Homo sapiens: one gene and its partner. Each later gene encodes a partner of the first gene's protein in a complex. Each region holds a gene or a part of one and is shown in the gene's direction. Other genes may lie near its edges.

The links.
Region 2: TIMM50 (region 1) and TIMM17A share a complex: the UniProt entries of both Homo sapiens proteins name them as parts of the TIM23 complex.

What each region holds. Positions count from the first base shown.
Region 1 is NC_000019.10:39,479,258-39,483,005, forward strand, and holds the start of TIMM50 (mitochondrial import inner membrane translocase subunit TIM50), read left to right. Parts: upstream 1-1,580; 5' UTR 1,581-1,596; coding exon 1,597-1,704; exon of another isoform or gene 1,705-1,731; coding exon of another isoform or gene 1,732-1,803; intron 1,804-1,972; exon of another isoform or gene 1,973-2,059; intron 2,060-2,625; coding exon 2,626-2,776; intron 2,777-3,627; coding exon 3,628-3,659; intron 3,660-3,748. UniProt on the Homo sapiens protein: Essential component of the TIM23 complex, a complex that mediates the translocation of transit peptide-containing proteins across the mitochondrial inner membrane. Has some phosphatase activity in vitro; however such activity may not be relevant in vivo.
Region 2 is NC_000001.11:201,953,085-201,956,832, forward strand, and holds the start of TIMM17A (mitochondrial import inner membrane translocase subunit Tim17-A), read left to right. Parts: upstream 1-2,418; 5' UTR 2,419-2,442; coding exon 2,443-2,468; intron 2,469-3,748. UniProt on the Homo sapiens protein: Essential component of the TIM23 complex, a complex that mediates the translocation of transit peptide-containing proteins across the mitochondrial inner membrane.

The sequences.
Region 1 (3,748 bases):
TATTATTATTAATTTTAAAAATAGAGATTGCAGTCTTGCTATGTTACCCAGTGTGGTCTCAAACTCCTGGCCTCAAGCGATCCTCCTGCCTCGGCCTCCCGAAGCACTGGGATTATAGGTGTCAGTCACAGCGCCTGGCCAGAAGAGTTTTCGAGGGCTGGCTTTTCAGGTCGTTTTCTGGGCCTCAATGTCTATTTCTGACAATGTGGGGAAAAGAAAGATCAGATTGTTACTGTGTCTGTGTAGAAAGAAGTAGACATAGGAGACTCCATTTTGTTCTGTACTAAGAAAAATTCTTCTGCCTTGAGATGCTGTTAATCTATAACCATACCCTGTTATAGATGACGGGGTTCTCTATAACCAACCCCGTGCTCTCTGAAACATGTGCTGTGTCAACTCAGGGTTAAATGGATTAAGGGCTGTGCAGGACGTGCTTTGTTAAACAGATGCTTGAAGGCAGCATGCTCCTTAAGAGTCATCACCACTCCCTAATCTCAAGTACCCAGTGACACAAACACTGCGGAAGACCGCAGGGACCTCTGCCTAGGAAAGCCAGGTATTGTCCAAGGTTTCTCCCCATGTGATAGTCTGAAATATGGCCTCATGGGAAGGGAAAGATCTGACCGTCCCCCAGCCCGACACCCGTAAAGGGTCTGTGCTGAGGAGGATTAGTAAAACAGGAAGGAACGCCTCTTCGCAGTTGAGACAAGAGGAAGGCATCTGTCTCCTGCCCGTCCCTGGGCAAGTCTTGGTATAAAACCCGATTGTATGTTCCATCTACTGAGATAGGGGAAAACTGCCTTAGGGCTGGAGGTGGAACATGCGGGCAACAATACTGCTCTGTAAGGCACTGAGATGTTTATATGTATGCATATCTAAAGTACAGCATTTAATTCTTTACCTTGTCTATGAACCGTTGTTCACGTGTTTATCTGCTGACCCTCTCTCCACTATTATCCTATGACCCTGACGCATCCCCCTCTCCAAGAAACACCCAAGAATGATCAGTAAATACTAAGGGAACTCAGAGGCTGGAGGGATCCTCCGTATGCTGAACGCTGGTCCCCTGGGCCCCCTTTATTTCTTTCTCTATACTTTGTTTCTGTGTCTTTTTCTCTTCCAAAGTCTCTCGTTCCACCTAACGAGAAACACCCACAGGTGTGGAGGGGCAACCCATCCCTTCAGACAATTGGGAGGTGAGGGCCGATTGCCTTACACGGTGAGACAAGCGGCCTGACTCGTGACTATTTTTTTGGACAAATCAGGCAGCCACTGACTCCCTTCATTATGGCCTCAGCTTTATCTCTGGGCAATAAGTGTGATCCCTTCCTTCGCTGCGTCCTTTGCAGGGGCGGTGGCGCTCTGCAAGGCCCAAGGGGGCGTGGTCCAGATGACTTTGAATCCCAGTTGTCGCCCCCAGGGTCAGCCAGGAGACTAGTCAGAAGCAAACGCGCCTGCGGCAATCCGCCCGATGCCTTTGGTCTCTCTCGGGCTTCCGTCCACCCGCCCCTCCCCCGCGTTTCCATTGGCTGTAGCTCCGGCCCGGGGCGGGCGAAGAGGGAGCGAGTGGGCGGGGCCGCGTGGCGTCAGCGCAAGATGGCGGCCTCGGCAGCGGTGTTCTCGCGCTTGCGAAGCGGGCTCCGGCTCGGCTCGCGGGGACTGTGCACGAGGTTGGCGACGCCGCCCCGCCGGGCCCCAGATCAGGTGAGCGGAACGAGGGTGGCCCTCTGAATGTGGGGTCCCTTCCCTGGAGTTACGGACATATCGCCGCCCCTTGGGGGTTCCGGGACGCCTCACCTCAGGGTGCTGAATGAAACGCCGCTTGTGTTTTGGGGCCCTTCCCAACCTCCTGGGTGGTTGCTCCCCTAGGCTGGAGGCTGGGAATCCAGGTGTGTCCTTAGACCCCACCTCCCACCCACGTGGGTGCCGGAGGAGGAGGGGGTTACCGTTCCCCGTTTCAGTGACCACTCAGGTGATACTTGAGCAGGAGGGGCCTGGGACGCTGGAGTCCCAGTCTGGCCGTGGGAGTTATTTTCTCTGTGGCGTTGGTGGTGGCGAGGTAGACGTTTGGGTTTCCAATTCGACTTGCCTCCATGTTGACAGAGACCCAGCCATTCTGACCTCCAAGTCTATCACTTCTGTGCCTTAGTTCCCCAAGCCCCAGACAAGTGATTGCCCTTCCCCGCCTCCGCTCCTATCCCTTACCCTATAACTCTGCTACTTTTAGCCCCAAGCAGCCGGACGTCGTAACTCCCGGTTCTGTCTGTACCCCTTCCCCCACCACTTGTGCCCTCCGTTCCCTCTCATCCCAGTGTTTAGGCCCTCCCATCCCTTATTCTCCGTGCTTTGCTTTTCTGGGCTGCAGACCCTCCAGTCCTGTTGCCTTCAGGATCCTGTGCACCTGGCCTGTTAGCTTTTAAAACTCCTGGCATCCTGGTGCGGGACAGTCTGGTTTTGACCCTCTGAGCAGCCCCACATCCTGACTGCTACTCCAGGGACACAGATGTCCAGGGCTCTGTGGGTGTCTGCCTCTTGGCTCCTGAACTTGATTCTTCTTGGACTGGAGGGTGGGGACCATCCTGACCTCTCTTCTCTCTTGGCTGACCTCCCCTTTCTCAACCGCAGGCCGCAGAGATCGGGAGCCGCGGGAGCACTAAGGCGCAAGGGCCACAGCAGCAGCCGGGCTCAGAGGGTCCCAGCTATGCCAAAAAAGTTGCGCTCTGGCTTGCTGGGCTGCTTGGAGCTGGTGGGACTGTGAGCGTCGTCTATATCTTTGGTGAGGGACATATCCCTGTCCCCCAGTTTTGTTCCTTGGCCTCCCTGGTCCACTGTGGAACCTCCCACTCTTGCCCACTACCAGCTTCTCTCGTCTTCATTCCCTGGCTCCTTCCTCAATAGGGCAGCCAAATAAGACACCTACCTTGAAAACCAGGGAAGTCTTCTTTCTTCTCCCTTCCACTCCTTAAGGTTCTAGTCTTTCTAGTTGGTTCCTGTACCAGGATAAAGGAAAGAGGGGAAGATGGGGAAGGATAGGCCTGGATCAGCTTCCTAAACTTTGTCTTTCCTCAGCAGCCAAAAATCCAGCCTTCCCACTAGTTACTTTAAATCCCACAGACCCGGCCGGGCACGGTGGCTCACGCCTGTAATCCCAGCACTTTGGGAGGCCGAGGCGGGCGGATCACGAGGTCAGGAGACGGAGACCATCCTGGCTAACACGGTGAAACCCCATCTCTACTAAAAATACAAAAAAAAATTAGCCCGGTGTGGTGGCGGGCGCCTGTAGTCTCAGCTACTCGGGAGGCTGAGGCAGGAGAATGGCGTGAACCCGGGAGGCGGAGCTTGCAGTGAGCCGAGATCGTGCCACTGCACTCCAGCCTGGGCAACAGAGCGAGACTCTGTCTCAAAAAAAAAAAAAAAAATCCCACAGACCCAAAAGACCTAGCCCCAGCCCCATTTCTCTCAAAGACCCAGGAATCTTGGCTCCCAGCCCCCTCCTGGCTTGACTCCAGGAGGCTGTGCCTCTCTCTTTCCTCAGATCCAGGAGTCCAGGCCCCTTATCCCACTCCTCCCTCGGGACCCAGGGGACTGGGCCCTAATTCCTCATATTCATCCTGGTCTCCCTTGCAGGAAACAACCCGGTGGACGAAAATGGTGCCAAGGTGAGGGGGAAAGAGACCGAGGCCTTGCCAGGAGTCCTAGTCTGTGGGTGAGAGGGGTCCCCTTTGGTCTGTTCAGGCACATTGCTGGT
Region 2 (3,748 bases), on another chromosome or scaffold:
CCATCTCAAAAATAAATAAATAAATATTAATTTTATGTATATATATATATATATATATAGAGAGAGAGAGAGAGAGAGAGAAACAGAAACAGAAGGATATATATATATTTGCACACAATAAGATATATATATGTGTGTGTATATATATATCCTCTTGGTTCTGTTTCTCTGGAGAACCCTGACTATTCCTGGTGATTTAGTCAAAATAACTGATCTCACAAGAGGCAGATACATAAGCCAGTATTAACTACCAAGTGGAGAAGAATAGTTATAAACACAGGCCAGGGTATTCTCTTCTATATCGAAATCTATTCAGAAGCCAAATAAGAAGAAGAAGATTGCATAATAAATATGGAATAAGAACAAAGGGAGGTAGCTAGAGCTAGAGCTAAGGGATATTTTATCTGGGTCCTGGTGAGAGTGCAAATCTCTAGTTACTAAAATATTTATACCCACCAGGTCTTCGGTGCTGACTAAATGTCAGATTCCTGCCCTCTGAATTCCTCCATGTCCCCTCTCCCACATTCTCTCTTTGGCCTGTACAATTAAATAGAGTTAACTATTCTTAATTACAGTCACATTCTGAACACGTCTTCTCCACCTTACACACCCAAATCAGATAACTAGTATGAACCATTCTCACGTGCAAGACACATTTATTGATAATCTTTAGTTCCATGGAGGGTTCGATTCATCTGCTTACTTTATTTCCAAGCTTTTGGAGAGACCCTCACTCCTCTTTGCAGTCTTCCTTTATTTATTTATTTATTTGAGGTGGAGTCTCGCTCTGTCACCCAGGCACAATCTTAGCTCACTGCAACTTCCACCTCCCACGTTCAAGCCATTCTCCTGCCTCAGCCTCCTGACTAGCTGGGATTACAGGCAACACGCCAGGCTAAATTTTGTATTTTTAGTAGAGACGGGGTTTCACCATGTTGGTCAGGCTGGTCTCGAACTCCTGACCTCGTGATCCGCCCGCCTCGGCCTCCCAAAGTGCTGGGATTACAGGCGTGTGCCACTGCGCCCGGCCTCTTCCATTATTTATGACATTGACTTTTCCGTAAAATAAATATATACATATTTTTAAAGTTAATTACAAACGTACAGAATGGAGAGGAGCACTTTAACAGCCATCACATGATTGGGATTTTGTTGACAGTAAACTAAAAGCTCCATGGGTCCCAACCTTTTTTTTTTTTTTTTTTTGACAGTGTCTCACTCTGTCACTAGAGTGCAGTGGCATGATCACAGCTCCCTGCGGGGTAGATCTCCTGGGCTCAAGCTATCTTCCCGCCTCAGTCTCCCGAACAGTCAGGGCTACAGGCACGTGTCACCACGCCCGGCCTGGTCCCCATAAGTCCCCTCTTCTCCGAGCCAAACATCTTCACACCTTCTGGTGATCATTAGTGGAGAGGCCTGTGAGAGGCTCTGGTGTCAATGTCCCTGAAATCGAGGGCTCCAAATTGGTCATGGCTCTCCAGATGGCCCAAACAGTTCCAGTTCACAAACATTTATTGAGCATCTACTACATTCCAGGCACTGTGGTTATTATAAATCACTGAGACACTGTTTGCCCTAAAGGAGCTACGTGTATTTGGTAACAGCTTCACAGTAAGTGACGAATAAGATAGCATTAATCCACATTTGACAGCAAAAGTACCAAAAAAGAAAGAAAGAAAAAGAAGAGAGAGAAAGGAAAGAAAAGAAAAGAAGAGAAAGAAAGAGGCCGGGTGCGGCGGCTCACGCCTGTAATTCTAGCACTCTGGGAGGCCGAGGTGGGCGGATCACGAGGTCAGGAGTTCGAGTCCAGCCTGATCAACATGGCGAAACCCCGTCTCTACTAAAAAAACATAAAAATTAGCCGGACCTGGTGGCGCCCGCCTGTAGTCCCAGCTACTCAGGAGGCTAAGGCAGGAGAATCGCTTGAACTCGGGAGGCGGAGGTTGCAGTGAGCCGAGATCTCGCCGCTGCACTCCAGCCTGGGCGACAGAGCCAGACTCTGTCTCAAAAAAAAAAAGAAGAAGAAAAGAAAAAGAAAGAAAGAAAAAGGATGGAAGGAGAGAAGAAAAGGAAAGGGGGAAGGGAAGGGGGAAGGGAAGGCGGAAGGGAAGGGAAAGAAAGAAGCGTATTTAGGCAGTATCGCGTTGATTTCAGTCCACGGAACCTCTGGTGACCGGGTAGTGTGACTCCGTCATTGGTAGCCCCCCGCCCACACAGCCGGGACTCGCGGCCTTTGAGGACGTGGGCAGGGCCAGTCTCGCCACGCCGCGGCCAATGCCCCGACCACACGCTGGCCACAGGAGTCCTGGCTCCCATTGGCTGCAGCGGGAAATGGTGAACCAATGCTCATAGACCTTAACGCCCTCCTCTCGGGATCACTTCCGCCTCTGGGGTCAGGCTCCGCCCAGCTTGCCCGGCATCACTCGCGGCATTGGAGTCAAGATGGAGGAGTACGCGCGAGAGCCTTGGTGAGCTTCACCGCTGTCTTTGCATTTCTCTTGCCCCCCTGCCCACTGCCCTCCTTCTCCCTTGTCCAGGCTCCCAAGGTGCAAGCCAGACTCAACCGCAGCCTCGTCGACTTGGGCCTGGTAACTGGGCAATGCGGTCTTTCGCGGCCAGTCGGCTTCTTAGCCCTGTACTTAGTACCTCCCCGGCCGCGTGAGCCTCCCTCTCCCAACCCAGCACCCGTGTGACCTTGTGATGGATGGTAAGGAGGTCCAGACTTGAGTTTGATAGAACCTCGGAACCTCCTCCCAACGCAGGGCGTAATCGACTTTATGCGGGGCCAGTTATAATCCCCCCTGTTCGTCGAGGTGACCTTGGGCGCGTCCCTCCGTCTCGCCTTGCTCAGTTCCTGCGTTGAGGAACTGAAGAATAGGCATTTGAGGGAGTGTCATTCTTGAGGTTTTACTTGTATCATGATATGTGTCCACAGAGTGAAGCATTTTAAATGAATGGAACATAGATTTTAGCCAAGGGGTCTGGATAAGCTTCTTTATTGCGTGGGGCCTTGTTTTCCTTCTTGGAATTCTTTCTTGAGGGTAGAGGGGGACAAAAATTACCTGGGAAATAGGAAGAGGTAATAGCATGTGTTCTCTGAAAAGCCATGGACAGAAATTCATTGTTACATCCAGCGTTTATTGAGTATGAATAAACCAGACACATAGATAATTATAAAACGATGTAATTGCTGTCAGAAGTCTCAGGTTGCCAGAGTTTAAAGTTTCTAGGGTCATAGGTAAAAAATCAAATCTTGATATTTCGGTTAATCATTTGTTTTATTGTGTAAGAGCAACAACCAAGATGTCCTCAATTTGTGAAAGTGCCCAGGACCTTAAATTACTACTCTGGTATCCTAGCCTTGTTGCATGTTTTATGTTCCCCTCTCCCATAAATGGCATACAAAATATAAGTTTTAGGGTCTCCTGGCTCTTCAAACTTATCTTCTTCAAAGCAGTTATCCTCCATTCTGGATTGTGCTCAGATATGTAGGACTCAGCACACTGTAAATAGCTGTTTGATGTACTATAATGACACAGGTTAGCAGAGAGTTAAAATATTTAACTATGTTGAGTTAAAGATCTTAGAAAAATAAGGCCGGGTGTGGTGGCTCACGCCTGTAATCCCAGCACTTTGGAAGGCCGAGGCGGATCACGAGGTCAGGAGTTCAAGACCAGCCTGGCCAGTATGGTGAAACCCCGTCTCTACTAAAAATACAAATATTAGCCGGGCGTGGTGGCACGCGCCT